Homo sapiens: one gene and its partners. The protein of the gene in region 5 interacts with the protein of the main gene of each other region in a pairwise test. Each region holds a gene or a part of one and is shown on either strand. Other genes may lie near its edges. The genes, in order: SDCBP, GPATCH8, CAMK1, RHOXF2, ATXN1, TLE5 and CENPV.

What was found.
Region 1: the proteins of ATXN1 (region 5) and SDCBP interact in binary tests that used the Homo sapiens proteins (3 or more experiments, as listed by UniProt).
Region 2: the proteins of ATXN1 (region 5) and GPATCH8 interact in binary tests that used the Homo sapiens proteins (3 or more experiments, as listed by UniProt).
Region 3: the proteins of ATXN1 (region 5) and CAMK1 interact in binary tests that used the Homo sapiens proteins (3 or more experiments, as listed by UniProt).
Region 4: the proteins of ATXN1 (region 5) and RHOXF2 interact in binary tests that used the Homo sapiens proteins (3 or more experiments, as listed by UniProt).
Region 6: the proteins of ATXN1 (region 5) and TLE5 interact in binary tests that used the Homo sapiens proteins (3 or more experiments, as listed by UniProt).
Region 7: the proteins of ATXN1 (region 5) and CENPV interact in binary tests that used the Homo sapiens proteins (3 or more experiments, as listed by UniProt).

Annotation. Positions count from the first base shown.
Region 1 is NC_000008.11:58,562,593-58,566,760, forward strand, and holds part of SDCBP (syntenin-1), read left to right. Parts: intron 1-2,426; coding exon of another isoform or gene 2,427-2,441; coding exon 2,442-2,492; intron 2,493-4,168. UniProt on the Homo sapiens protein: Multifunctional adapter protein involved in diverse array of functions including trafficking of transmembrane proteins, neuro and immunomodulation, exosome biogenesis, and tumorigenesis.
Region 2 is NC_000017.11:44,496,420-44,500,587, reverse strand, and holds part of GPATCH8 (G patch domain-containing protein 8), read left to right. Parts: intron 1-4,168.
Region 3 is NC_000003.12:9,756,381-9,760,149, forward strand, and holds the end of CAMK1 (calcium/calmodulin-dependent protein kinase type 1), read right to left. Parts: intron 3,371-3,769; coding exon 3,292-3,370; intron 3,196-3,291; coding exon 3,108-3,195; intron 2,907-3,107; coding exon of another isoform or gene 2,807-2,906; intron 1,467-2,806; coding exon 1,349-1,466; coding exon of another isoform or gene 1,242-1,348; coding exon 1,159-1,241; coding exon of another isoform or gene 1,137-1,158; 3' UTR 967-1,136; downstream 1-966. Other genes in the region: OGG1 (N-glycosylase/DNA lyase), read left to right, coding at 91-241, 387-436. UniProt on the Homo sapiens protein: Calcium/calmodulin-dependent protein kinase that operates in the calcium-triggered CaMKK-CaMK1 signaling cascade and, upon calcium influx, regulates transcription activators activity, cell cycle, hormone production, cell differentiation, actin filament organization and neurite outgrowth.
Region 4 is NC_000023.11:120,161,386-120,164,312, forward strand, and holds part of RHOXF2 (rhox homeobox family member 2), read left to right. Parts: intron 1-2,072; coding exon 2,073-2,402; 3' UTR 2,403-2,927. UniProt on the Homo sapiens protein: Transcription factor maybe involved in reproductive processes. Modulates expression of target genes encoding proteins involved in processes relevant to spermatogenesis.
Region 5 is NC_000006.12:16,306,551-16,310,718, reverse strand, and holds part of ATXN1 (ataxin-1), read left to right. Parts: intron 1-3,859; coding exon 3,860-4,168. UniProt on the Homo sapiens protein: Chromatin-binding factor that repress Notch signaling in the absence of Notch intracellular domain by acting as a CBF1 corepressor. Binds to the HEY promoter and might assist, along with NCOR2, RBPJ-mediated repression. Binds RNA in vitro.
Region 6 is NC_000019.10:3,059,542-3,064,294, reverse strand, and holds the start of TLE5 (TLE family member 5), read left to right. Parts: upstream 1-1,799; 5' UTR 1,800-2,094; coding exon 2,095-2,121; intron 2,122-3,037; coding exon 3,038-3,135; intron 3,136-4,753. UniProt on the Homo sapiens protein: Transcriptional corepressor. Acts as a dominant repressor towards other family members. Inhibits NF-kappa-B-regulated gene expression. May be required for the initiation and maintenance of the differentiated state.
Region 7 is NC_000017.11:16,343,159-16,347,326, forward strand, and holds part of CENPV (centromere protein V), read right to left. Parts: intron 1,554-4,168; coding exon 1,439-1,553; intron 1-1,438. UniProt on the Homo sapiens protein: Required for distribution of pericentromeric heterochromatin in interphase nuclei and for centromere formation and organization, chromosome alignment and cytokinesis.

The DNA of each region.
Region 1 (4,168 bases), on a different chromosome or scaffold from region 5:
TTTCAAAAAATGGTGCTGAAATAACTGGGTTTCCACATGGATAATAATGAATATGGATCTATACCACACACCGTGTACAAAATTAACATAAAATAGATCAAAGATATAAATGCAGGAATTAAAGACATAACATTTTTTGAAGAAAACATAAGGGTAAGTCTTCATAACCTTGAGTTGGGCAGTAGTTTCTTAGATGTTATATCTAAAGCATAAGCAACCAAGAAGAAATATAGATTCAAATTTGTCAGAATTAAAAACCTCATATTGCAAAATGCACTGTGAGAAAAAATGAAAAGACAATCTACAGAATAAGAAAAGTATTTGTAAATCATATATGATAGTGGTCTATGATATGGTCTGAATGTTTGTGACTGTGTCCCTCCATTCATATGTTGAATCCTGTAATCATCAAGGGGATGGTATTAGAGTTACCATATGACCCAGCAGTTGCATGCTTAGCTATATTCCAAGAGAATTAAAGATGCATTTATTAAAAAAGTATATAAACTTACATATTATTTGCTAACAATGCAAATGCTCATTGGCATTTTTAACAGCATTATTTATAATAGCCAAAAGTGCAAATAACCCAAATGTCATCAGCTGATGACAGCATAAATATAATGTGGTATACATACAATGGAATATTATTCTGCTATGAAAATGAATGAAATACTGATACATGCTCCAACACAGATGAACCTTGAACATATGCTATGTGAAAGAAGCCAGATGCAGAAGGCCACATATTCTAAGATTCTAGATTAAGTATCCAGAGCAGGTAAAAACAGAGGCGGGAAAGTGTATGTTGCCTGGAGCTGGAAGGAGGGTAGAATGGGGAGGCATGAGTTTTCTTTTGGGGAGGATGGAAATATTCAAAGATAGGTAGTGGAGATGATTGTAGAAGTCTGTGAATATACTAAAAACCATTGCATTATATACTTTGAAAGGCTGAATTTTAGAGTGTGTGAATTAAATTTAAAAAAAAAACTATCTCATACTGTCCAACTAGGAGACAGAGACCATATAGTGATTTTAACAGTGGAGGTTTAATACACAGAATTACTAGTTATAACATGATTGAAGAAATAGAAATTGACTTGTAAGAAGTAAAGACAACTTTTAAGAATACTGTAAGAGCAGACTTAATAAGTAGCCACTAACTCTAGGGCTGTTCCCATACTGGGGCTGAGATTCAGGTCTGGTTGAAGAGGGGACAGATGTCACTGGCAGATGCTGAAGTTGCCGGATACCATGCTTCTGGAACTTATTCTCCCTCTGGCATTCTGAACCTTGGAATTTGCTGCAGAAGCCACGTGAAGGGGTTGAGAAAGCTGCTCAGGGAGATTCCTTGGTGGTGGCATTCTGCTGCAGAGTTACTCAATAGAGTGCTGGGGTGAGCTTCTGCATGCTTGTGAAACTACTCCTGGCAGGAGTCTGGCTAGAGTAGTACGTTGGAACCATGAAGAGAAAAGCTCTTCCTCCTACAGTGTACCTCCAGTTGCCTCTACTGACAAGGCTTAACATCATGCCAGCTGGTAACAGAGCAATGTTGAAAGAGCTCAGCTCCATTTTGGGAGAGAAAGCAATAAGAAGTGGATTTGGAAATGGGAGGTAATAAATTGATACCTGAATCAAGAATCTTACGTTAAACCACATACCAGTTTAGCATATATTCTGTTTTATTGGGTTGAGTGAAAGTATCAGGTATTCATCTCAAAACAGCTAAATAAAATTTAAAATATGCATTCATATAATACATTTAGAGAATTGTGTTTTAAATTATTACAAAAAGCAATTTATAACTAAAAAACATACTTCTACTTAATACAGAAGTATTTTAAATGAAAAGTAAAAATTTCCCTCTTATTCCTCACTCCTTTACCATCTGTCTTCTGAAGAAAAATCTGTTAGCAGTTGATATAGTTTCTTCTGTATACATATATGTGTGTATATATTTTTCTTAGTAATAGAGGTTCATGTATTGATACTGCATATGATCTGCTTTTAGGCTTTTATTGTTAGAAGGAAATGTAGCTGTGTAATGCCCAAGGGCATTGTACTAAGGGTAGTTTCCTAGTCCTGGCTAAGTTGCAAGTACTTGTGTAAGTTAGGAGTAAGTCACATAACTATTCTATTTGATTTTCTAAATTTGTAAAATGAAGGGACTTTTACTTGAATTTTAAAAATCGGTGATGGATATAGTTCAATAATACTATTAGGGGAAGGAGAGGTAGTTTGGTAATTCTTAAGTATCAGCTAACTTTTAGTATGGCCTATATATTCTTATTTTTTAATATGTTTTGCAATTTAAATGTTTTTTATTGAGTTAAATAGTTCTACTTGTTTATGTGTCTGTGGTTAGCTGTGTATACTATTTCAATTTCTATGACATTAGAGTAATAAAACTTTCTTTTTTTCTTTAGAAGAATCCTGCAAAAATGTCTCTCTATCCATCTCTCGAAGACTTGAAGGTAGACAAAGTAATTCAGGTATGATAGTTTAAATACTTTTGTCAAAACAAACACAGTAACATGCATTCTACTTATAGGTGAAATAAAGCAAGATAGCTAAATAGCAGATATATTTGTTCATTTTTACACTTCATAAACCTTTTTTTAGTTTTATTAATTGCAGACTGAAAAGTTTACAGAAAAATTAGCAATTTTTTTTTTCATTTCACTGTGAATTAATAGGCATGAGATTTTTTTAATTCGACTTACACTTTTTACATTTCTGGTTAAAATTTAATTATATGTAACATATTTGAGTTGACAAAATATACTCCAATTTTGTAGATATTCATAGTTTTGTATAAAATTGGTATATTTTTCTTTTGGATCTTTAGGTATGACCACTCTTTAATTCTATGTCTCTTAACTGAAGTTAAAATTACAGAAATAGTGGCGTACATGCTGCTTTTAGAAGAGCAGTCATGTAAGAGCACAGGGAAAGTGTAGTGATTTCTTTCCTTTGAGAGATGAGCAGCAGACATTTCACTTGTTCATTCTCTAAATGACTGTGTAGAGATTGCAGTATTTCTAATTGCATTGAGTTGAAAATTTTTATACTCCTTTGTATAAGTATTAGCTTTGAAGACAAATGCTTCTGCTTAAGAACAAAGTGAGGAATTGGGACCAATTCTGGCTAATTGGGAAATTTTTGGTAATTATTTTAATTGGGGGTAATTTGTAGTATATGATGAATTTGTTTACGGTTAGCTTTCAACTTGATCTCTTATCAATTTAGAATTTCTTCAGCCGTTGTTTATTGTTTTAATTTGACAAGATAAACGAAAACTCCTTACCCTGAAGATCATTTTATTGGGTCCCTGTCTTCAATTTACTAGAAAGTGAGATATTCAATTTACTTACTGATAATTGAATTATGAACAATTATTTTCTATCATAGATCCAGTATGGATATTAAAATGAGGTTTGTAAAATCTCTAAAATCTACAGTTCAGCTGCCAAGGCTTTGATGCCTCAAAGTTTCAAGTGGCCTATTCAGTCATCTTTTACATGTTCCTATCACTTCTTTAGTATTTTGTCAGTATTTTCTTCATGTGGTTTTTATTTCCACATAGTTCATCTAAACAAGCACTTTTCTTTTTAAAAGGCCTTTATCTGAAATATTTAGCTTTCCAGAATAACTGCTTAGCCATTAATATGACATCAATACATTAACTGATAAGGATTTTTAGATGGACCTGTAAGAATGACTAATCTGTTCTTTGTTTTCATCCTTTTTTTGTTAGCTTTTTATGGAATTGAATGTAAATTCACCATAGTCAGATATGAGCTGAGGCTTTTGGTTTTGAAAACAGCAGCAGCAGAAGAGTTGATATTGACAAATATTGGAATGAAAAATAAAGAGGGCTACAATCTGTATCATGCTGCCCTCTTTAAGCAGAAGTGAATTACATAGATATTTACATTAAAGAACGTTTTATGTTCAGAGCAGAAAGCAGCTGGGAGATAGAACAGTGAATAAGGAGTGGGAAACATGGTTCTTTTATTACCCCTGAATTTAAAAATATTCCTAATTTAGCCATTAAACTCTTTGGCTGTTTTTGTTTTGTTTTGTTTTGTTTTTTTGCATCATTTTCTAAGGTGGATGATACTCATGTTTGTTTTTATTCTTAAGATTCTCCTGAAACGGTATTATG
Region 2 (4,168 bases), on a different chromosome or scaffold from region 5:
TTTGATGTCTCTTGAAATTATTATGGAGTGAGGGAGTTGGGCTATTAAAATTTGTGAATACCTAAAGTTGCGAAGGTATTTTGTATATATAGTGAAAAGTTATAGTTAACAGTGGTATGCCACTTGAAGCACTCATGTATATAGAGATTAATAATTATCAGGGACCTAACTTTTTTTAATTGGTAACTTTATTATAATAACAAACAGGTCCTATTCCACAGGCTTTATGTGTCTTATCTCATAGTCTTCACTATAACCCTACGAGGTAGGTACTGTTATTACTGCCGTTTTCAGCTGAGGCACAGAGAATTAAGTAACTTAGCCAATTACATACATCTGTTAAATGGCAGAGCCTAAATTCATACTGGCTTTTGGATTCTTGTACTTGTCCTCATGACCATTCTGTCTGCTGCTGACAATTATACATTTTATGTAGCTGTAATTGGGTCATCAAATGTGGAGGATAGACTTATAGGTGACAAAGAATAAGGGAGCTTTTAGAAAGGTGATACAGTTCCAGTTTTTATTTTGTTTGGTTTTGTCCAGATCTGTCTCTTTCTGGTCTCCCAACGGCTTCTAGGGAGGCTTTCAACAATGATAAATTACATTGTGTCATAGAGGATATATTGTTACCTGTTTTAGTTTAGACATTCTTTTGTCTAGCCTTTTAAGTGTTTTTTTTTTTTTTAATCTTTGGAAATCTTTGTAATCTAAGCTGATGTATTTATTTTTACAAATGTTTTAAGAGTTTTAACTACTCCTTTAAGAATCTGGCCTCAATTTCTGAATGAGATATTACTTCTGCCAGCATTTACCAGATTAAGATATATTTGTTCCCAAATTGAAGTGTTACACAAACTAATGGAAAATGTATAACTTAAGATAATCAACACTTTGGATTACAGGTTCATTAAAGAAAGTTTTGTTTGTACAGTGATGTACAGCTAGCTATACGGTGCCATTAAGAAACAGTGCTTAGCATTTTATGGTTGCGCAGCTATTATTGGTGATGCAGCTGAATGCTGGTGAGGAAATGTTCTTTAGTATATGTACCTGCAGAGGACTGATGATTCGTGTTCCGAGTGTTCTCTGCATTTTATTTATTTATTTATTTTTTTGAGATGGAGTTTCGCTCTTGTTGCCCACCTGGAGTGCAATGGCACCATCTTGGCTCACCTCAACCTCCGCCTCCCGGGTTCAAGTGATTCTCCTGCCTCAGCCTCCCGAGTAGCTGGGATTTCAGGCATGTCCCACCATGTCCAGCTAATTTTTTTGTATTTTTTAGTAGAGACGGGGTTTCACCCTGTTGGTCAGGCTGGTCTCAAACTCCCGACCTCAGGTGATCCACCCACCTCGGTCTCCCAAAGTGCTGGGATTACAGGCTTGAGCCACCGCGCCTGGCCCTCTGCATTTTATTTCTAATGAAAAGGAACTACAGTAATAGATCAGTGAGTGATAAGTTGATAAGAGAAACAAGACATGCTATGTTAAAGGTCGTAATAAAAATACAGAAATTGCCCAAGAACTTTCTGTAATCTATGTAAGTAATCATAATGGTAAATAGCAATAAGCTAGTCATGTATTACATTTATGCAGTATGTTTGTAGGAATCCTCTTTGTGTTTCCATATGTAACCAGTATGTGACCCTTAGGAAATTCTTAGTTGAGACTATTAAGTGAAGAGGTTCATAGTTTTAAGATATTTAAGTCACAGAAGCATATTAGTGTATTTTCTGTATGTAATATAGTTGGCATTGTAATTCAGGTATGCCAGATATGACACATGGACAAGTGTTTTAAATCGTTTTTCCTATGTCTCGCTCCCGTAATCTGGAAGAAATGCCACAAGCTGTGAAAATTAATGTCAGTTTGGCTTGGGATACTGAAATTTATACAAAATCATTACTCTTCCCTGTCTCATAGTATGATAAGTGAAAAGGATTAGAATCAGGGCTGTACCAGTTTCAAAATACTGATGCTGAATTGACATGATTGTTAGCAAATGCAAAATGATATTGACATTGGTTAATACATTCTTAGGAGATCGAGAGTGACCAAAGTAAAGTCAGCATAAGAGAAGTTTCCCTGGAGGTGATTTGAAGGGTAAATGGTATATAATCACTTTTCAAATGTGGGACATATCAAGGACATCTCAACATCACAGAGAGAGACTTAAGTTGTAATTAGGAAAGATTGGGGTTGGGAAGAACTGTGATCAGAGGACTTCATGTGATGATGTATATTATTTGTTTTCAAAGTAGGCATGGGAGGCAGGAAGAAACAGATCTGGACAAATAGAGTATTATGCCGAGTATTATTTCAGGGCTCTTACAATACAGTCAAAATGATAGAAAAACAGGTACTCCTGTTGTACCTTTCCCTTTCTTCTATACATGTAACACAGTTCTCATTAGAGTACTGCAAAGGGATTCTTTCATCACAGTTTCTCATGTCTTTATGATAAATTGTATAACCAAAGCTAAAATTTGTGACTTAAAAATATTTCAAGATACATATGTAATAAGCTATCCTGATTGTGCTGCTTCATAATTGAGATACATTTCCATGTGATTTCTGTCTATCTGGGTACATGATAAAAATTTTTAAAAGGACAGTCTGTTTTTCTTTTCTTTTTTTCTTTTTTTTTTGGAGACAGTGTCTGGCTCTTTTGTCCAGGCTAGAGTACAGTTGTGGGATCTTGGCTCATGCAGTCTCCACCTCCTGGGCTCAAGCAATCCTCCCGCTTCAGCCTCCCAAGTAGCTGGGACTACAGGAATGTACCACCATGACTGGCTAAGTTTTGTACTTTTTTTAGAGACGGGGTTTCAACTTGTTGCCCAGGCTGGTCTTGAACTCCTGGGCTCAAGCGATCCTCCCACCTCAGCCCCCCAAAGTGCTGGGATTACAGGCATGCACCACTGCACCCAGCTGACAGTCTGTTTTTTTGATGTGGTCAAGACTTTTTTAAATTTAATTTTTTTAAATAAAAAATTCGTTTTTGAGACAAGGTCTCACTCTGTCACTCAGGCTGGAGTGCAGTGACGCGATCATGGCTCCTGGCAGCCTTGACCTCCCAGCTTCAAGTGATCCTCCCACCTCAGCCTCCTGAGTACCTGGGGCTACAGGTGTGTCACCAAGCCCTGCTAATTTTTTTCATTTTTGTAGAGATGGGGTTTCTCCATGTTGCCCAGGCTGGTCTCAAACTCCTGAGCTCAAGCTATCCTCCCACCTCGGCCCCTCAAAGTGTTGAGATTACAGGCATGTGCCACTGTACCTGGCCAAGATTGCCATTTTCTGAAAGCGTAGCAGAAGTTCATGAGATCTTAATTATGAATCAGAAACCTATGTAAAGTTTTCATTTTTGCTCTTGTGACTTAGTTTCTAGTATTTTATTAATGAAAATGGTTTCTAGCTTGAAGTAGATAGATTCCAGTTCGTGAGTTCTATTAAAATTCCTTCCCTGAAACAACTTGGTACTTTTGCTTGTAAGTCTGGCATTAATTTTCTTTTCATATTAGCATTACCATTTAGCATTAAGTGAAAGCAGATTCATGGTAATTACCAAAGGAATTACAGATGACCACCACAAATACTGAAAGAAGTCATTGATTTGATATTGCAGTGAATACCAGAAGATGTTGTAATAATTTTCCACTTATAAAAAGTGAATTGTCCATTTAACTCTGGAGGTCTAAGCAAATGTGCTTAATGCATATCGTATTAGTCAATGCAAAAAGTTAAATATGCCCAGGCTGAAAGAAGGTGTATAATGTATGGTCGTTCTTATACCAAATGATTTCTTTGGAATTTAAACAAATATGTTTAGTATTTTATTCCTAATTTAGGAAGAAAAAGCAACTAAAGTTGTTCTGACATTGTACACAGATGAGTAGCACGTAACTGTTATTTAGTAAGCCCCATAGATAGTAAGGAATAAAAGTTGTTAGTGAGCAAAACAGGAGTATCCTGCCATTTGCTTTAATTCTTCTTGTGATAGTTTTGAGGTACAATAATTCCTGTGTGCGTGTCACTCAAGCAACCAGAAAGTGTCTTTGTAATACGCATTTGGTCTCATCTCATGAAGTTCCAGTTGTTTGTTGTCATCCTTGTGACTCTTTGGTAATTACATTGATTTCAAAGAGGAATTCTAATTCATCTTACTGTTTCA
Region 3 (3,769 bases), on a different chromosome or scaffold from region 5:
AGGAGAAAGCAGCCGGCTTTGGGGCTATAAGCAAGATGCTGGCCACATGCTGCCCTTCTTCCACAAGGGCTCATTCTGTGTCTGTCAAAGGTGGCTGACTGCATCTGCCTGATGGCCCTAGACAAGCCCCAGGCTGTGCCCGTGGATGTCCATATGTGGCACATTGCCCAACGTGACTACAGCTGGCACCCTACCACGTCCCAGGCGAAGGGACCGAGCCCCCAGACCAACAAGGAACTGGGTGAGGAAAGTGGGCTGCAGGGGCTGGCAGTGGGCTGGGATGGTAGAAACTTCTCTCTCTCTTAGTCACCTCTCCCTCAGACCCTACTTCTGTTGATGGGTCACAGAAGGGGTCAGATAACTTAGTCTCATCACTTCTGATTTAGGAAACTTTTTCCGGAGCCTGTGGGGACCTTATGCTGGCTGGGCCCAAGCGGTGAGTGTACCTAGGTGTCCTCCCTAGGTTTCCTCTCCTCCAGCCCAGACCCAGTGGACTCTTCCACCACCGCCCCAGGTGGCCCTAAAGGACTCTCCAGCCACCCCTGTCCCAACCCCAGTGGATTCTCATTGCCTTCGGCCCTGTTCCCCAAGGACTCTTCCACCTCCCAACACTGTCACTAGTCTCACCAGCCCTGACCCCAGTGTACCCTCCTCCCCACACAGACTCCACCCTCCTACAGGTGCTGTTCAGTGCCGACCTGCGCCAATCCCGCCATGCTCAGGAGCCACCAGCAAAGCGCAGAAAGGGTTCCAAAGGGCCGGAAGGCTAGATGGGGCACCCTGGACAAAGAAATTCCCCAAGCACCTTCCCCTCCATTCCCCACTTCTCTCTCCCCATCCCCACCCAGTCTCATGTTGGGGAGGGGCCTCCCTGTGACTACCTCAAAGGCCAGGCACCCCCAAATCAAGCAGTCAGTTTGCACAACAAGATGGGGTGGGGGATATTGAGGGAGACAGCGCTAAGGATGGTTTTATCTTCCCTTTATTACAAGAAGGAACAATAAAATAGAAACATTTGTATGGAAAATGCAGTGAGGAGTGGTAGGGAAGCAGGTGAGGAGGGGACAGGGCAGAGAAACTCCCGGTTCAGGGAGGGAAGGGGAGCAGGCTGCCCCCAAGCCCTCCCACGCAGAGGATCATGACCCGAGGTCCAGGGCCCTAGAGCTGGTGGGGCAGTGTGGGGGACAGTTCTGTGCCCGGCTCCACGCAGCAGTCTCGACAGCAACAGCCAGCTGCCGGCCCTGCATGGGAAGACAGAACAGAGGTGGCCGCAGGGGCAGGCCCTCCACTCCAGCCCGGGTGCACCTTTGTGGACCACCCATGCCCTTCTGCAGAGCCCGCTCCTCACCCCCAGCCACTGGTGTCAGCAGCTCCCCATGGCTCGCCGTCTGCCCCTGCCCCTCCTGGCTGGTGCCCAGCTGCAGTTTCCTCATGTGCCGCACCACAGCCGTGGCATTGAAGGCTTGCTGGCATTGAAGGCATTGAAGGGAGAGGGGAGAAAGGACTTTTGAGAGAGTCAAGTCATGGGGCAGGGGCGCAGTGGGATTCTTGCAATTGTTCTGTTATTTTCATTCAGGAGTTATTTTATTAATTCCCCTAAAGCCCCCCAAAAACCTCTACAAGGCTTTATTATATATTTACACACACACACGCACATATGTTAGATGTATGTGTATCTATATATATAAATAGAAACATAACTATAATTCATATTAATATGTAATAGCAAACACTATAGCACTGTATGTCAGGCACTGTTCTAAGCACTTTACGTAGTAATTCATTTAATCTTCATGAAAGTCTTTGAGGTAGGTACTATTATCATTTTCAAAGGAGGAAACTGAGGCACAGAAAGCTGAAGTAACTTGCTCAGGTGTGTCTCTATTCAATATCTCCACCTAGGTGTCCCACACACCCCTCAAATTCACCATGTCTAAAACTAAAACCATCCCCCCAAAACATGTTTCTGTCCCTGTGATAACCATCTCAGTCATGGTACCACCACCATCCATTCTGTTCCCAGCCACAGTCTTGGGCCAGCCCTTGACATCTCTTTCCCCCAACATCCATTGCATCGTCATGTCTTGTCAGTTTCACCTCCTAAATGACTCCTGGATCAACCACTGTTCTCTGCCCCCTGTTGCTGCTACTGTGGTTCCAAACCCTTACCATCTCCTGCCTGTATCTCTGCCACAGCCTCCTAATGCGTCACCCAGTCTTTACTCCATGCCATTCTCTGCATCCTGAGAGCTCTTTCTTTTTTTTTTGAGGTGGAGTCTCACTTTGTTGCCCAGGCTGGAGTGCAGTGGCGCGATCTCAGCTCACTGCAACCCCCATCTCCGAGGTTCAAGTAATTCTCCTGCCTCAGCTTCCCAAGTAGCTGGGATTACAGGCACGCACCACCATGTGTGGCTAATTCTTTTATTTTTAGTAGAGACAGGGTTTTGCCATGTTGGCCAGGATGGTCTTGAACTCCTGACCTCAGGTGATCCAACCACCTCGGCCTCCCAAAGTGCTGGGATTACAGGCGTGAGCCACCATGCCTGGCCCTGAGAGCCCTTTCTATGCAGCAAATACTTGCCTAAGATTCTTCTGGGGCTCCTCAGTGCCCTCAGGATCAAGTTGGTGCTCCTCTGTGGCATATGAGGCCCTAAGAGGCCTGGCCCCTTACCTGCTTCTCTAAATTGGGCTCCTGCCTCTCAGTCCCCTCAGCCCCTCCAGTCTGGCCAGGCTTAGCACTTGCACTTCCCGGAATGGCTATAGACATTATTCCGCTATGCCTCACTAATTCCTACTTAACTGACAGCTCTGTCAGGTCATCACCACTTTTATGACCTTTCTCGGACCCCATAGGCTGGATCAGATGCCTCCTGAAGAATTACAGACTTCTTCCTCTAGACTTGGAGGTGAGGGACCCTCTCTGGAATAGAGAAGGTGTTGGGAGTGTTTGTTGAATGAAAGAGTGAATGAATGAAGTCCTTCAGTAAGGATCCCTAAGCAGTTACTGTGTGCCCAGTGTGATGCCAGGTGCTGTGCAAGCTGAGCCTGGGTAGGGATGGGGAGGAGTCCTGGGGAGGCTGGGACCAGAACTAGGGATATGGACTCACCTTCCACTTGCTCTTGGCAAAGTTCTTCTTGATCTGCTCACTCACCGACTGGTGGATATTCTTATCTAGAGCTGTATCTCCTGCAATCCTAGGATGGGGTTATGTGGTGGGTTGCCTATGAGGGCAGAAGCAGACCTGAGGGCCCCAAATCCCGCCCCAGCTCACAGGTTGTGTGAATTCTCACCATGGGTGCTGCAAGGCCTGCTCACAGGTGAATCTTTTCTCTGGGTCCTTCTCCATCAAGTGCCGGATGAAATCTTTGGCTAAACCCCCAAGACAAAAGCAAAGATAATGACAGCATGGTACTGCCTGTGTACTCCCCAAGAGCATACCCACTCCCTCAGGTCTGGCCTGGCATCAAGACAAAGAGGCCAAATCAGTCCATGCCCCACCCCACCCAACCTATGCTCTTCTTCAGGCCCTCCCACCCCGTGCCTTCCAGCTCTTTCCTTTCTCTCTTAAGAAAAACATATGGCCGGGCACAGTGGCTCATGTCTGTAATCCCAGCACTTTGGGAGGCCAATGCAGGTGGATCACGAGGTCAGGAGTTCAAGACCAGCCTGGCCAAGATGGTGAAACCTTGTTTCTACTAAAAATACAAAAAAAATTAGCCGGGCATGGTGGTGGGCGCCTGTAATCCCAGCTACTTGGGAGGCTGAGGC
Region 4 (2,927 bases), on a different chromosome or scaffold from region 5:
TTCTAGCATTTAAGAGATTTTTTGTTTCTTCCAGTTTGTTGTACTAACAGGAAGAGATGTGTTTTGTGGAATGTGTTGATAGTGGGGGATGGCTGTCAGGTCAGGCTAGACTCTTACCTGTGGTAATTTGAAATACCTTTTTATTTATTTGCTCAGGCTGTGATAATAAATTTGTAGGTCAGTGGATCCAAAGGAGTATTTGCAAAAAAGGAAGAAAAGAAAGAAAAATCGGGATGACCTTAATAGCTTTTCTGCAGAGCTCATGTGTGTGAGTGCAGTGAGGGAACTATGCTGCGGTTCTGTCAATGGTGGCATGCAGAAAAGCTGCCTGACAAAACGGGGCACTGAGTGTTGGCATCCTGTTGCCCTCCATTTTCTCAGGCAGGCAATGCCAATTTGGGGGAGATGAAATATTGACGTTTTGGTGAATTGCCTTTCCCCTCCCTGGGTTTACATAGCATTCACTCAATGCAGTTCTGAAGGCAAAAGGACCACTCTCACTCAGCAAATAAGGAAAAAGGCATGATGTTCTCATCTATTGCCAAACATTTCAGCATGAATATCTCCAAAAATTTTTAATAGATGTTTCCCCCCTCTGTTTTGTAAAGATAGTAAGGGCTGGTTTATGAAACCGATACGGAGACTAGGGACCTAATGTTGTCCCATAGCACATTTGGCCCACTTTTGGCATTGCTTATGTTTATGAACCTTTGACCACAGGTACATTGGAATTGTCTCTAAACAAGCACTATTACGGTAGGCTTAAAATTTAGACTATGTATTCATGAGGGAGAAGGACTCCAAATAGTAAGATGGGAGAAGGAAATGGGGCATCAAACAGGGAGAAGAGTCCCTTTGTCCCATAAAATTTGCAGTTTGGGAACTTCCAGAAGGATCAAAATACAATGGAAATGTCATTAACTAGAAGCTTGGGGGATAGTGTTGTTTAATTGACAGGTTTTATTTTTTGGTCTTTTAACAATTGGCAGGTGTTTGGGGAGTAGTGTTTTTTGATACCTCCTCCACATTACTACTGAACGTGTTCAGAGTTGCCTATTTGGACACTCCCGCTTTGGGAATGCTGATGAGATTGGGATCTTCTGCTCGAGTAGTGAGGCTAGATGGCTGAAGGCGTCCCATGGAACTGGGCAACCAAGTCTCTGTCCCATATCCCAGGACTATAGGGAGAACAAAGTGAGCTGACCTTGTCCTTAGCCCAGGAAGATTTGGAGGGAGGGATGAGTTGGAGCGTGCAGAATTAGCAATGCTTCCTTTCTCTCAAACTCTCAACTGGGCAAAGCTTTTTGAGAATTTTTGTGAATTTGGACAACATTTGTGTCCTCCTTCCACAAAGCTTCAAGCTGAAGTGTGAAGAGTGTCCAGGGCTTCAGATACCCTCATTTCCCAGCAAGACAATCCACAAACTCCCTGGGCCCCCTATAACGAGACTTGCCTTGCAATATACCATCTTTTTAATTCTCAAGGAGTTTCAGAAGATGAATGACCCCTTAGAATTTCTTGAAGGAAAGAAAACTTGTTTTAAAATACAATGTACTCTTACCGATTTTTTACTTTACACTGAAGATGGGCTTTTCAAAACGGGGGCCTCATCTTCTTGGTATGACTTTAAAAGGCACCCCCGCCTTTTTTTCCAAGCTCAGCTTCCCCCACGACCAGGGTGACAGTGGCCTAGTAAGTAGGAGTTGGTGGGCAGCTGGGTAGCTGATGGTCAAGTATCTGCAAGCAGACATGCCACACATAGCAATACCAGCAGGGATCGAGTCCCACTCATCAGCTACACCTGCACCCAAGAGTGGAAAAAGTAATATTACAGATAAAAGGAGAGAGACAAAGAAATAAGCCAAGCCAGAGCGTACGTAGCACATACTTGGAGCTCACTAGGGGAAAGGTGTGGTGGTCACCTTTCTAAGATATTTTAGTAGTAAGGAAGTAGCTTGTCTTGATACACCCGAAAAGGTTAAGGACATAGAGAGTTGCTTGTTGTGTTTTTTTCCATGATGAAATTAAATGCTCAGTATACTAAACCTGTTTCTTTTTTCCTCTGATTGAAGATTTGGTTTGAGAATAGAAGAGCCAAATGGAGGAGACATCAGAGGGCATTAATGGCAAGAAACATGCTGCCCTTCATGGCAGTGGGCCAGCCTGTCATGGTAACCGCAGCTGAGGCCATAACGGCACCCTTGTTCATCAGCGGGATGAGAGATGATTACTTCTGGGACCACAGCCATTCCAGCAGCCTGTGTTTCCCCATGCCACCCTTTCCTCCTCCGTCCTTGCCCCTTCCACTCATGCTTCTTCCACCTATGCCACCCGCTGGCCAGGCTGAATTTGGCCCATTCCCTTTTGTTATCGTGCCTTCTTTCACATTCCCCAATGTCTAAGGGATAGCCTCTGTGCCACTTTTTGCCAGAGTGTCTTTGAGCCAGATTCATATTTTGCATAGCACCCCATCAAAAGTAGTTCATCAAATGTCTATTAAACGTTTTAAAGAAAAGTACATCATTGACCCATTTTTAGGGCACTTGTAAAAATGTTTCTATAAATATGTGAAGGGTATGTACATTTGTTTTGTGTGTCACATGGGGTCAGTAAGTTCTCAATAAAAATTGTTAAGAAATGCCATTCAAACCGAATGTCACGGACTCTCGTCTCATGCAGTAATCTTGAGTCACCATCTGGGGGCTGTGCATGTCACAGAATTTTCCCATGTGCCCATGGCAGGCTTACACCGACCCAGACATTCTCTTCCACCCCCACCCCCAACACCCCATACTCATCTCCTCTCTGCCCCCATTGATACCAGGTACATGTGCAGGATGGGGTGGTGTGAGTCCCTAATGAGAGAATAGTGTGTTTCAAGTTACTGCCAGGGTGGAAAACAGCAAAACCAAAATGGTATCGGGAAG
Region 5 (4,168 bases):
TCAGGATATCGAGACCATCCTGGCCAACATGGTGAAGCCCCCACTCTACTAAAAATACAAAAAGTAGCTGGGCGTGGTGGTGGTGGTGCATACCTGTAGTCCCAGCTACTTGGGAGTCTGAGGCAGGAGACTCGCTTGAACCCGGGAGGCGGAGATTGCAGTGAGCCGAGATCGCGCCACTGCACTCCAGCCTGGGCGACAGAGCAAGACTCCCTCTCACAAAAAGAAAAAAAGAATCCAACAATATTTTAAATATTGTTACATATAGCCAATATTCATTCAGATTCACCATGTATCTACCATTTTCATTCCTCTTCATTCCTCCCTGTACAAACTTCAATCTAGATTTGTTTTTTCTCTACCTAAAGAATACCTTTTAGTATTTTCTATAATGCAGATCTGTTGATGGTGAATTCTTTTAATTACTGTTTGTCTGAACATGTCTCTATTTTGCCTTCATTCTGGAAGGATCTTTTTGCTCCATATAGAATTCGCCATTGACAATTCTTTTTCTTTAGCACTGTAAAGATATTCCATTGTCTCCATTGTCTACTGGCTTCCATTATTTTTGTTGAGATGTAAACTGTGAGTTCCATTGTTGCTTATTTGGAGATAATATGTATTTTGTTCTAGAGGCTTTTTTTTTTTAATGGAGTTTCTCTATTGTCGCCCAGTCTAGAGTGTGATGGAATGATCTTGGCTCACTGCAACGATCTTGGCTCACTGCAACGATCTTGGCTCACTGCAACCTCCGCCTCCCGGGTTCAAGTGATTCTCCTGCCTCAGCCCCCCGAGTAGCTGGGATTACAGGTTCCTGCCACCATGCCCAGCTAATTTTTGCATTTTTAGTAGAGATGGGGTTTCACCATGTTGGCCAGACTGGTCTCAAACTCCTGACCTCAGGTAATCCACCCACCTCGGCCTCCCAAAGTGCTGGGATTACAGGCAGGAGCCACCACACCCAGCCTGTTCTAGAGGCTTTTAACGATATTTTTTCCTGTTTAGTTTACAAGATGTCTTTGATTTATAGCAGTTTAATTCTCATCTGCCTCAGTGAGGATTTCTTTTTGTTTATTTTTCCTGTTTGGGGCTAGGCCTTCTTGAAACTGTCTTATTATCCTTCTTCAGTTTGGGAAAATTCTTAGCCATTACCTCCTCAAGTATTAACTTCTGCCCTATTATCTCCCTCTCTTCCTCCTCCTAGGATTCAAATTATGTGTCTGTTAGCCCCTCTCAATGTATCCTATGTGTCTCTTACCCTCTCCTCCATATTGACCATCTTTTTGTCTCTATGTTCACTCTGTGGAGTCTCTTCTAAAGCTCTAATTAGAGAATCCAGTTCCTGAATTCTTTCTTAATCCATGTCTATTCAACTGGAAAGCTCATTGCATTCTTGATTTCAGTGGTGTATATTTTAATTCTACAATTCTCATAGACCTTTTTTAATTAATTAATTATTATTATTATTATTATTTATTTTTTTTTTTTTTAGAGACAGAGTCTCACTCTGTTGTCCAGGCTGGAGTGCAGTCTTGTGATCATAGCTCACTGCAACCTCTAACTCCTGGGCTCAAGATCCTCCTGCCTCAGCCTCCTGAGTAGTTGGGACTACAGGCACGCATCACCACACTAGGCTATTTTTTTTTAAATTTCTGTAGAAACGGGGTCTCATTTTGTTGCCCAGACTGGTCTGAAACTCCTGGCCTCAAGTGATCCTCCCTGTCTCAGCCTCCCAAAGTACTGAGATTACAGGCATGAGCCACCATGCCTGGCTTCATGGATCTTTTAAAAACAGATTCTAGTTTCCTATCAAAATTCTCAAGCTGTCTTTAATCTTCTTAATTATTGTAAGCATAGTCTTTGTAAAGTCTATATGTATGACTCTATATGAGAAGCCCTGGTGCATCCTTTTTTAAGATCTGATATTTTGCTAGTGCTTATACAAGCTATCTGGTCTCCTCATGACCACCACCCCCCTTTTTTAAATTGAATGCTTTTATTTGCAAAATTGTGAAAGTAATTCAAGACCTTAATCCAGTTTTAGGGACTCAGATGAGTCAATCTGAGCTTCAGACCTTGAAAGGCCTGTTGGCTTGTGGTTCACTGTCTCCTCTAAGGGACAGTGCTTTGGGGTCACAACTCAAAAGAATGGGGCTCACCAGAGAACACCCTCCCTTGGTGTATCCTGAACTCCATTACCTGTTCCCTATGCTCTTAACACTATCAAAAGCCCACTTGGTTTCCCAACTGCTCCACTTTGGAATGTTCAAGTGCCTTCAGGAGAAAACAGGCCCCCAACACCAGCTTCACCTCTCTGGGCCATCATCTTTTCCTGATCCAACCCAGGAAGTGTGTGTGTGTGTGTGTGTGTGTGTGTGTGTGTGTGTGTGTGTGTGACGGAGTTTCACTCTGTCGCCCAGGCTGGAGTGAAGTGGCATGATCTCGGTTCACTGCAGCCTCCGCCTCCCGGGTTCAAGCGATTCTCTTGCCTCAGCCTCCTGAGTAGCTGGGATTATAGGCGCCTGCCACCACACCTGGCTAATTTTTGTATTTTTAGTAGGGACAGGGTTTCACCATGCTGGCCAGGCTGGTCTCAGAGTAAAGTGGCACGATCTTGGCTCACTGCAACCTTCGTCCCCCGGACTCAAACGATTCTCCTGCCTCAGCCTCCTGAGTAGCTGGGATTATAGGGGCCCACCACCACACCTGGCTAAGTTTTGTATTTTTAGTAGAGATGGGGTTTTGCCATGGTAGCCAGGCTGGTCTCAAACTCCTGACCTCAGGTGATCCACGCGCCTTGGCCTCCCAAAGTGCTGGGATTACAGGCATGAGCCACCGCGCCTGGCCTTTTTACTATCTTATTTGCTGTCCAGTACTATAAGAAAAAAAGTTTAAACATTTTGTCCAGAGTTTTTAAATTTATTTGTTTGCTTATATTTTTGTTCAGAGTTTTTAGTTGTCCTCAGAAGGAGGGTTGGTCCAAATTACCTAGTCTACTACATCTAGAAAGGACATTGGAAATTGACTTTTTTTTTTTTTTTTTGAGACGGAGTCTCACTCTGTGGCCCAGGCTGGATCGCCCAGTGGCACGATCTCGGCTCGCTGCAACATCTGCCTCCTGGGTTCAAGTGATTCTAGTGTTTCAGCCTCCCAAGTAGCTGGGATTACAGGTGCCCGCCACCACGCATGGCTAATTTTTTTTTTTTATTTTTAGTGGAGACGGGGTTTCCCCATGTTGGCCAGGCTGGTCTTGAACTCCTGACCTCAAATGATCCACCCACCTTGGTGTCCCAAAGTGCTGGGATTACAGGCATGAGCCACTGTGCCCAGCCACCAAGCATCCTTTTAGGGGCTGGGGACTCAGTGATAAACACACTGTGCCTGCTTCTTGGAACTCACAGTCTCACTCTGATCCATGTTTAGTCCTGTCCTGTATGATAATAGCAGTTGTCCATTGAGCTCATAAAATCTAAGACCGCGCTGGGCTTGTGAGCCACCTGCAGAGCCTAGCTTGGTGCTGAAAGCTAAGTGGGTGCTCTGTCATTACTGGGGTTCGATTGACTGGTTCTAACAGAGACCAGCTATAGAGCTAACACTTGATGGAATATTTTGAATATTGATGACCTTTTCACTGGCTTCTGCCTATGGCAAGTAGAGGTACAACCCAAAGAGAAGAGCCTCATTTATAGTGTGTGGCTGGGGGAGAGGGAGGTTTGCAAACTGAGTCATTTTCCCCCATTCAGCCTGTGTGTGTCTGTGTGAGTTCATACCTGTGTGTGTGCATAAAATCAAACAAGAATAAAATGTTTTCATTTGTTCCCTTCCTTCTTCCTCTCTCTGTCTCTCCCTGTTTCCACAGGTCAGCGTTGAAGTTTTGGTAGAGTATCCTTTTTTTGTGTTTGGACAGGGCTGGTCATCCTGCTGTCCGGAGAGAACCAGCCAGCTCTTTGATTTGCCGTGTTCCAAACTCTCAGTTGGGGATGTCTGCATCTCGCTTACCCTCAAGAACCTGAAGAACGGCTCTGTTAAAAAGGGCCAGCCCGTGGATCCCGCCAGCGTCCTGCTGAAGCACTCAAAGGCCGACGGCCTGGCGGGCAGCAGACACAGGTATGCCGAGCAGGAAAACGGAATCAACCAGGGGAGTGCCCAGATGCTCTCTGAGAATGGC
Region 6 (4,753 bases), on a different chromosome or scaffold from region 5:
CTGTTCTCTGCGTGGCAGAGAGAGGGATCCTTTAATAACCGCCACCAGGTCCCATCCCTCCTCTTCCCACGGCTCTCCAGGATTCCCACCTCACTCAGAGCAAAAGCCCAAGTCCAGGGCCAGGCGCAGTGGCTCACACCTGTAATCCCTGCACTCTGGGAGGTGGAGGCGGGAGGATCACCTGATGTCAGGATTTCAAGACCAGTCTGGCCAATATGGTGAAACCTGTCTCTACTAAATATACAAAAATTAGCCAGGCGTGGTGATGCGCACCTGTAATCCCAGCTACTCAGGAGGCAGAGGCAGGAGAATCACTTGAATCCGGGTGGCAGAGGCTGCAGTCAGCCAACATCACATCACTGCACTCCAGCCTGGGCAACAGAGTGAGACTCCATCTCAAAAACAAACAAACAGCTGATCACGGTGGCTCACGCCTGTAATCCCAGCACTTTGGGAGGCCGAGGCGGGCAGATCATCTGAGGTCGGGAGTTCAAGACCAGCCTGACCAACATGGAGAAACCCCGTCTCTACTAAAACTCCAAAATTAGCGGGGCGTGGTGGCACGTGCCTGTAATCCAGCTACTCGGGAGGCTGAGGCAGGAATCACTTGAACCCAGGATGCGGTGAGCTGAGATTGTGCCATTGTACTCCAGCCTGGGCAACAAGAGCGAAACTCCATCTCAAAAAACAAACCAACCAACCACCAGGTCCCGTCCCTCCTCCTCCCACAGCCTTCCAGGGCTCCTACCTCACTCAGAGCAAAATCCCAAGTCCTCCCCAAGACCCACAAGTCCTTGCTGGACTGGCCTGCTTCACCAGCTACAGAGTTAGCAGGGCCCAGTGCAAAAGAAAACTCAAAGGCCCCTTGTTCAAAAATGATTAGAAATCTCAAAATGCAGCAGTAAATATTAACCCAAGCACAAGCCCTGCTGTGGGGTGGGGGGGCCCTGGACAAAAGCACGAAGCCCCCGGCCCTGCCTCCCTCCGGCCTTCCTGACCTCCCCCCGGGCACTCTGCTGCCAGGCACAGTCCTGCCCCAGGGCCTTTGCACCTGTTGGTCCTGCCTCTGACTACCTCTGTACCCCATCCCCCTGTTCTCCCTCCTTCTTCAGGTCGCTTTAGGGGTGGAGGAAGCCGTCTCTGATCCTCCCTCCCACCTCTTTAACTTTGCACCTTCCTACCCTGCCATTCTCCCGGCTGGTTTTTCTGCAGAACTGTCCCCACCATCTGACCTGCCAGGAATTCAGCTTGTGAATTTGTCTCTGTCTGTCTCCAGGCACCACCACCAGGGCAGGGACCCACCCCCGCCCCGCCCCACCCCAGGGCCCTGGAGCAGCGGGGCCTGGCACACAGTAGGCGTTCTATAAATGTGTCACAAGAATGGCTTCCCTCAGGAAGGCGGCATTACCGCTGCCTTTCTGCAGAAAAGGAAACTAAGGCTCAGCAAGAACCACCGCCCAGCCAGAGCCAAGGTCACAGAGCACGTCCGTGGCACGCGTCCAGGTCGTGCCACAGCAGGGCCGGCGGCTTCGACGCGGGCAGCCGGGTCCCTTTTCTTTGACAGATGGGGAAACCGAGGCCCGGCCGGCTGCCGGGTAGGAGAGGGTGGCGGGGGCCGCTGCCCGGGGCGGGGGCGGGCCGGGCCCAAGGTCACCGCGGCGGGCGGGCCACGGGGAGGCGGGCCGGCGTGGGGATCCGCAGGCCTCCCCGGGCGCGCGCGTCCCCCCCCTCGGCGGCGCGCACGGGGCACGGGCGGCGGCAGGTGGAGCCGAAGCCTCCGCAGCAGCCGAGCCGCGGCCACTGCCGGCGTCGCCGCCATTAGACAATAGCGGTGGGGCCGGGGAGCGGGGAGGCGGGCGGCGGGGAGGGGCGGGGAGGGGCGCCGGGCGCGCAGGAAGCGGGGCCCGGGGCGCGCCGGGGCCGGGCGCGCGGGGAGGGGGCGCAGGAAGCGGGCGAGGCCGGGCGCGGGAGGCGGCGGCGGCCCCGGGAGCTGCCGATCGGCGCCGGGACAAAGGCGCGGCCGCCCGGCGCCCCCAGCAGCCCGAGCCGGGGCGCACAGCCGGGGCGCAGCCCGCGCCCCCCGCCGCGATTGACATGATGTTTCCACAAAGCAGGCATTCGGTAAGCGGGGCCCGTCCGGCCGGCGCCCCCACCCCGGATCCGGGCCCTACGCCCCCGACCCCCGGCTCCCGGCCCCGCGCCCCCCAACCCCCAGGCCCGGTGCCTCCGGCCCGGCGCCCCCCCCAACTCCCCGGCCCTGTCTTCCCTCTCCAGCTCCCAGCCCGGCGCGACCCCCCTCCCCTCCTGCCGCCGGCCCCCGGACACCCCCCCTCCAGTTCCCGATCCACCCCAGCTTCCGGGCCCCGAGCCCCCCCGCCGCAGCTCCCGGCTTGGCGCCCCCCCCCCCCAACCCGCCGGGACAGTCAGGGCCTCGGACGGCCTTGGCCTCGGGCCTGGGGCGCTCCGGAAGCCCCGCGAGGCACCTCTAGCCCGGGGATCCTTTGGGGGCCTGTGGTGGGGGGGGTGATCCGAGGCGCACCCCTCCCGGAAGAGCGTGTCCCCGAGGAAGGGCGCTGGGAATCTGGGGTTGGGCCCCCCCGGAAGATTTCGAGCACCGAGAGAGAGACCCCTCCCCCAAGAGGACTTTGCAGGGAGGAATCGCTGCCCCCCAACTTGGGGAGGGGGCTCCCTAGGGCGCGTTTCTACCCCCCTCGGATGTGCACTCCCTCCCGGCGCTTTGGAGGGCGGTAGAGGGCGCACCCTGCCCCCCATCTAGGGCGGGCCTTAAAACGCACCCCCACTGCCTGGGGGTGGCGGGGGACGGGGCGGCTCCGGGCGCACCCACCCGCTCGGCTTCCCCCGGGAGAGGCGGGGGGCAGGAAGCGCGGGTGGGGTCGCGCCAGGGGCCGTAAACACGGGCCCAGGAAGTGGGGCAGGAGGGGGGGCGCCGCAGCTGCGCGGCCGCTCCCTCCTAGCCGGCCCTTGAGGGGGGTCCAGCCCACGCCTGGGCCTGACCCGGGCCGCCCCATCCCTACAGGGCTCCTCGCACCTACCCCAGCAACTCAAATTCACCACCTCGGACTCCTGCGACCGCATCAAAGACGAATTTCAGCTACTGCAAGCTCAGTACCACAGGTGAGCTGGGGGACTGGGGGTCCCTGCGTCCCGAGAATGTGAGTCCCCCCATTTCTTCTGCGCAGATGGCAAGGCTGAGGCCTGGAGATTGGGAAAATAATATATGCTAGACTCTGACCTAATCACTTGACAAATACTGAATTCATTTATTTTAAACAGCCCCATTTTGTAGAGGAGAAAACCGAGGCACAAAAATAGTTAAATAATTTGCCCAAAGATTCAGCTGTGTGGCTTCAGAGCCCCTCCCTCCTCCCCAATACCCCCAAGTCCCCCATTGGATAAAAGACCTTCCAACAATTGGAGTTACGGCACGGACTCGCCATCCCTCAACCCCCAAAACAGAAACATTCTGCAGCCTGGTCATCTCTCTCTTTGCCCAGTTTTGGAGAAAGGGTTCCCAGCACCCGTCAGATTCTCCAAGGTGCTGCTTCTTTCAGAAATCTGGCGTTTCTGAAGAGCTTGCCACGCTGCGGTATCTAAGGGGAAGGAACTATTTAGTCCTCTTACACTTAAAGAAACTTAAGCCCAGGCCAGGCGTGGTGGCTCATGCCTGTAATCCCAGCACTTTGGGAGGCCGAGGAAGGTGGATCACTTGAGGTCAGGAGTTCGAGACCAGCCTGGCCAACATGGTGAAACCCCGTCTCTACCAAAAATACATAGTTAGCTGGGTGTGGTGGCGGGCGCCTGTAATCCCAGCTACTCGGGTGGCTGAGGCAGGAAACTTGCTTGAACCCGTGAGGCGGAGGTTGCAGTGAGCAGAGATGGAGCCACTGCTCTCCAGCCTGGGTAACAGGGAGACTCTGTCTCAAAAAAAAAAAAAAAAAAAAAAAAGAAAGAAAAAAAGAAACTTAAGCCCAGAGATGTTATGATGTTATTTCCTCGGGGGTGTCCATAGCATTGAGGAAGTGGCAAGGCTGAGGTTTGCACCAGGTCTCTCTCCTGGTTTAAGGATATAGGTTCTCGCCTGCCCTGCTCTGGAGGGGCACGCCGGGCCTGGGAATCTGGAGAAAGTCAGGCTATGCTCAAACCCCCGTTTGGCCTTGGGGCCCTCTCTAAACTGAAGCGTGCCCACCCCAGAAGTGTTCCTGGAAGGATCCTGGATTTCCTCCAAGTAGAAAGGGGAATCTCGATTTTGTTGTTGCTGCTGCAAATATCCCACCTTTTTGGGTACTCCCTGTGTGCTCAAGACCGTTCGTGCCTCCTCGTGCTTCATCCTTCCTGTCGTCCGACTGTCGTACCCATTCTCAAGCTGGGCAAACTGAGACACTGACAGTCGAAGGTGCTGGAGTCAGCTTTCCATGCAGGCCCCAGAAGCTTTTGTGCGGGTTCCTCGATATGAAGGGTTGGATACCGCCTGGTGAGCCCCGGGGCTGACCTGATTCCACAGGGAAGGGATCAGATGGCGGTCACAGTGCTGTGTGACCTCTGCTAAGCCGGAAGCCCTCTCTGAGCTTTGGGGTCTCCATCCGCTGGGCCTGGGCTTCCTGCTGTCCAACGAGGGACCCTACCATATCAGAGGCACACACCGGATGTTCGAGGCGTAACAGCCCCTGGGTGGCCAGACCATCCTATTTTTCAAGAAAGGCCAGAAATGCAGGCTTTGGAGTGAAACTTCTTT
Region 7 (4,168 bases), on a different chromosome or scaffold from region 5:
TCACTTTCCTCAACTGCCAGATGGGAATCACACTCCCTGAGCCAGGTTTGGCCAAGGCTAGACAACATTCAATACCAAGTTGAGAGTACAACATGCAGAAAGGCACAGCCCAGAGCAATCTCTGACTGGCAGCCTGAAGAATTCACAGGCCTTTCCTGTGTTTAGATAGATAACTTTCTTTCCTTTTTTTTCAGATGGAGTTTAGCTCTTGTTGCCCAGGCTGGAGTACAATGGCGTGATCTTGACTCACTGCAACCTCTGCCTTACGGGTTCAAGTGATTCTCCTGCCTCAGCCTCCCAAGTAGCTGGGAATACAGGCGTGCGCCACCAAGCCTGGCTAATTTTGCATTTTTAGTAAAGATGGGGTTTCTCCATGTTGGTTAGGCTGGTCTCGAACTCCCGACCTCAGGTGAGCCACCATGCCTGGCCTCAGATAGATAACTTTCTAAGAATTAAATGTCTTCCCATTTGCACAGGATTTCATACTTTTCAACTCTTTCCTGTTCTGCAAGGTAGACAGGAAGGAGTCTCCATGTGACAGATGAGGAACAGGAGGCCCTGAAGCAATGGGGGAGCGGTAAGGATGACATCCTGCCCTGCCCTGCCTCCCCCACCTCCCCTGTCCGCTCCCCACCACCATAAGGCAAAAGACACTGACAGTCATAGCTGCTCTCGCAGCTCTGGAGGCTGCACTGACACAACAAGAGTCCTCAGAACATCTTCCACCTCTGCTTTCCCCTTCAATTCACACTATAGTTGGTATGATTCTCAACAACTGTCAGAGGGTTAGTTTTATTACTCCCCAGACCCAAGCAGGCCCTGAAGCGGGGCTTGGAGGGTTCCCTGCTTGTTTATTATTTTTTAAAAAGAACAGAGATACGGTTTTGCTATGTTTCCCAGGCTGGTCTCAAACTCCTGAGCTCAAGAAATCCTCCCACCTTGGCCTCCCAAAGTGCTGGGATACAGGTGTGAGCCACCGCAGCCAGCCAGTCCTGCCTAATTTTTGAACAACCAAAAAGCTTTCAAATGCCATTATCAATGCTCCCCAATCTTGCCTCCTTCACTCCCTTAACCCCTGTCATTATTAAAGCTGCCTCCCCTGGCCCCACAAGCCCATCTCCTCACCCCTCTCCTCCCTACCCTTCAACACCATCCCCAGCAACACCAGCTCTACCAGCACCAGTGAATAAGAATCACAACCTGGATGGGCTCCAAGTCCAACTTCACCACATTCAGATATGGGATTCAGAAAAGTTTCACCGGAGCCCGACTCACATTCTATCATGTGGAAAGCGCTCTGCTGAGGAGCCCTGTTCCTCTAAGATACGCATGTGACAGGGTCTAGTCAGCATCCCACCTGTCCAAATAAGACTTTAAATGAGAGCACCATGGGCCTCTCTGTGTCCCCCTGAGCTTGCAGTCCATCCCCTTTACTCACCGAAGCCTCCGGGGTTTGATCGTGGAGTATAGAAGCTCTGAACGCCACATCTCTTACAGAAGGTATGCTGGGCTTTGTGAGTATTGAACGTGTAAGTCGTTATGTGCTCAGCTCCCTAGGTGAAAACAGACAAACGGTATTCTTTTTTACAAAGAGATTTATTTATTTAATTTATTTATTTATTTATTTATTGAGACAGAGTCTCCCACTGTCTCTCAGGCTGGAGTGCAGTGGCGCAATCTTGGCTCACTGCAACCTCCACCTGCATGGGTTCAAGAGATTTTCCTGCCTCAGCCTCCCAAGTAGCTGGGATTATAGGCGCGTGCCCCCATGCCCAGCTAATTTTTTGTATTTTTAGTACAGACAGGGTTTCACCATGTTGGCCAGGTTGGTCTCGAACTCCTGACCTCATGATTCACCCACCTTGGCCTCCCAAAGTGCTGGGATTACAGGTGTGAGCCACTGCGCCTGGCCCCAAAGACATTTATTTTTATGTCACTTAAAAAATACACCTTTGTAGCCGGGTGTGGTGGCAGGCGCCTGTAGTCCCAGCTACTCGGGAGGCTGAGGCAGGAGAATGGCATGAACCTGGAAGGCCGAGCTTGCAGTGAGCCGAGATCATGCCACGGCACTCCAGCCTGGGCAACAGAGCGAGACTCCGTCTCAAAAAAAAAAAAAAAAAAAACACCTTTGGCCAGGCATGGTGGCTCATGCCTGTAATCCCAACACTTTGAGGCCGAGGCAGGCGGATTGCTTGAGCCCAGGAGTTCAAGACCAACCTGGGCAACATGGCAAAACCCTGTTTCTACAAAAAAATATAAAAATTAGCCAGGTGCAGTGGCACACATCTGTAGTCCCAGCTACCTGGGAGGCTGAGGTAGGAGCATCAGTTGAGCCTGGGGAAGTAGAGGCTGCAGTGGGCTGAGATCGCACCATTAAAAAAAAAAATCTTGAAATAACTTAATGGCAGGAGCTCTTCTGTAGGGCTCTTTGTACTAAGAGGCCATTTCCTATCTCCAGAAGAGACTGGGACCTTCTTGAGGACAGAGACCCATCTACACTATCCAGAGACATGTCAGTCTGGAGCGTGACAGCTCACAGCTTCCCTTAGGTCAACGGCATACAGAATTCAGCCTTGAGCCTTCCCTGATACATCACATCAGGGAGGGAAAGTGCTTGCTTCCCAGGGCCTATGTGGAGAGACAGTTCACCCAAGGGACTGGCTCTCCATGTCCCCAAACAGAACGGCTCAAGGTCTTAAGAAAACTGATGGCTGTGCTTAATTTATCCACAAAGGACAAACCAGGAAAAAAATATTTGCCAGACGTCATAGACAGGCTAATTTCCTTAATGGATAATACAAACGGGAGACTGGACAAAGGACATGAACGGACAGTTCAGATAGAAAGAAAAATAAATCACTCTTTAGCCTATGAAATGCTCACCAAAGGAACTTCAATGAGATGTATTTCACTGTCAGGTGGGCAAAATCAAAGCCGTTAACATGGTATTGACAAGTATGTAGAGAAATATGTGCTCACATATATCAGTCACAGGAACAGGAATTGGTACAATTTAGCAACATCTACCAAAATTTTAAAGTGTACATATGCTTTAGCACACAATTCCATTTCTTGAAATTTATTATACAGATATATTCCAAATGTCTCAATGACATAGGTATATAGATACTATAGCACTGTTTATGAAGGCTAAAGATTGGAAAAATTGAAAATGTCCCTCAATAGAGGACCGGTTAGGCATTATGGACACTCATAAAATGAAATATTCTCCAACTTTTGAGAAGAATGAGACAGCTCTACAAAACTAACATGGAACAATTGCCAAAGTTACAAAGTAAAGCAAGGTATAGGCCAGGCGCAGTGGCTCACGCCTGTAATCCCAGCACTTTGGGAGGCCAAGGTGGGCAGATCACTTGAGGTCAGGAGTTCAAGACCAGCCTGGCCAACATGGTGAAACCCTGTCTGTACTAAAAATGTAAAAATTAGCCAGATGTGGTGGCGGGCACCTGTAGTCCCAGCTACTCAGGAGGCTGAAGCAGGAGAATCACTTGAGCCTGGGAGGCGGAGGTTACAGTGAGCCGAGATCACACCACTGCACTCCAGCCTGGGCAACAGAGTGAGACTGTCTCAAAAAAAAAGTTAAGCAAGGTATAAAACAACGTACGTGGTATGCTACCATTTCTTTTTTTTTTTTTAAGGCTATATACTGGTATGTGTGGTGTTTTTGTTTTGTTTTGTTTTGTTTTTTTGAGACAAGATCTCACTCTGTTATCCAGGCTGGAGTGCAGTGGTATGACGACAGCTTACTGCAGCCTTGACCTCCCAGGATCAAGTGATTCTCCCACCTCAGCCTCCCGAGTACCTGGGACTATAGGCATGCAACACCACACCTAGCCGATTTTTTATTTTTTGTAGACATGGGGGTCTCGCTATGTTGTCCAGGCTGGTGTTGAACTCCTGGGCTCAAGTGATCTGCCTGCCTTGGCCTTCCAAAGTGCTGGGACTACAGGCATGAGCTACTGTGCCTGGCCTGTATGTGCTTTTATATGCATATGTATCTTTGAAGAGGGATCCAAGAAACAGTGGCTTACCTTTAGGGAGAGAAATCAGACAGCTGAAGGGGAAGGGGTGGAGGTTTCTTATCCTTGTTAACCCTCTTTACGCTTCCCCAGCCATACCGTCCAGAATTGTGCTTCCTATAGAAATA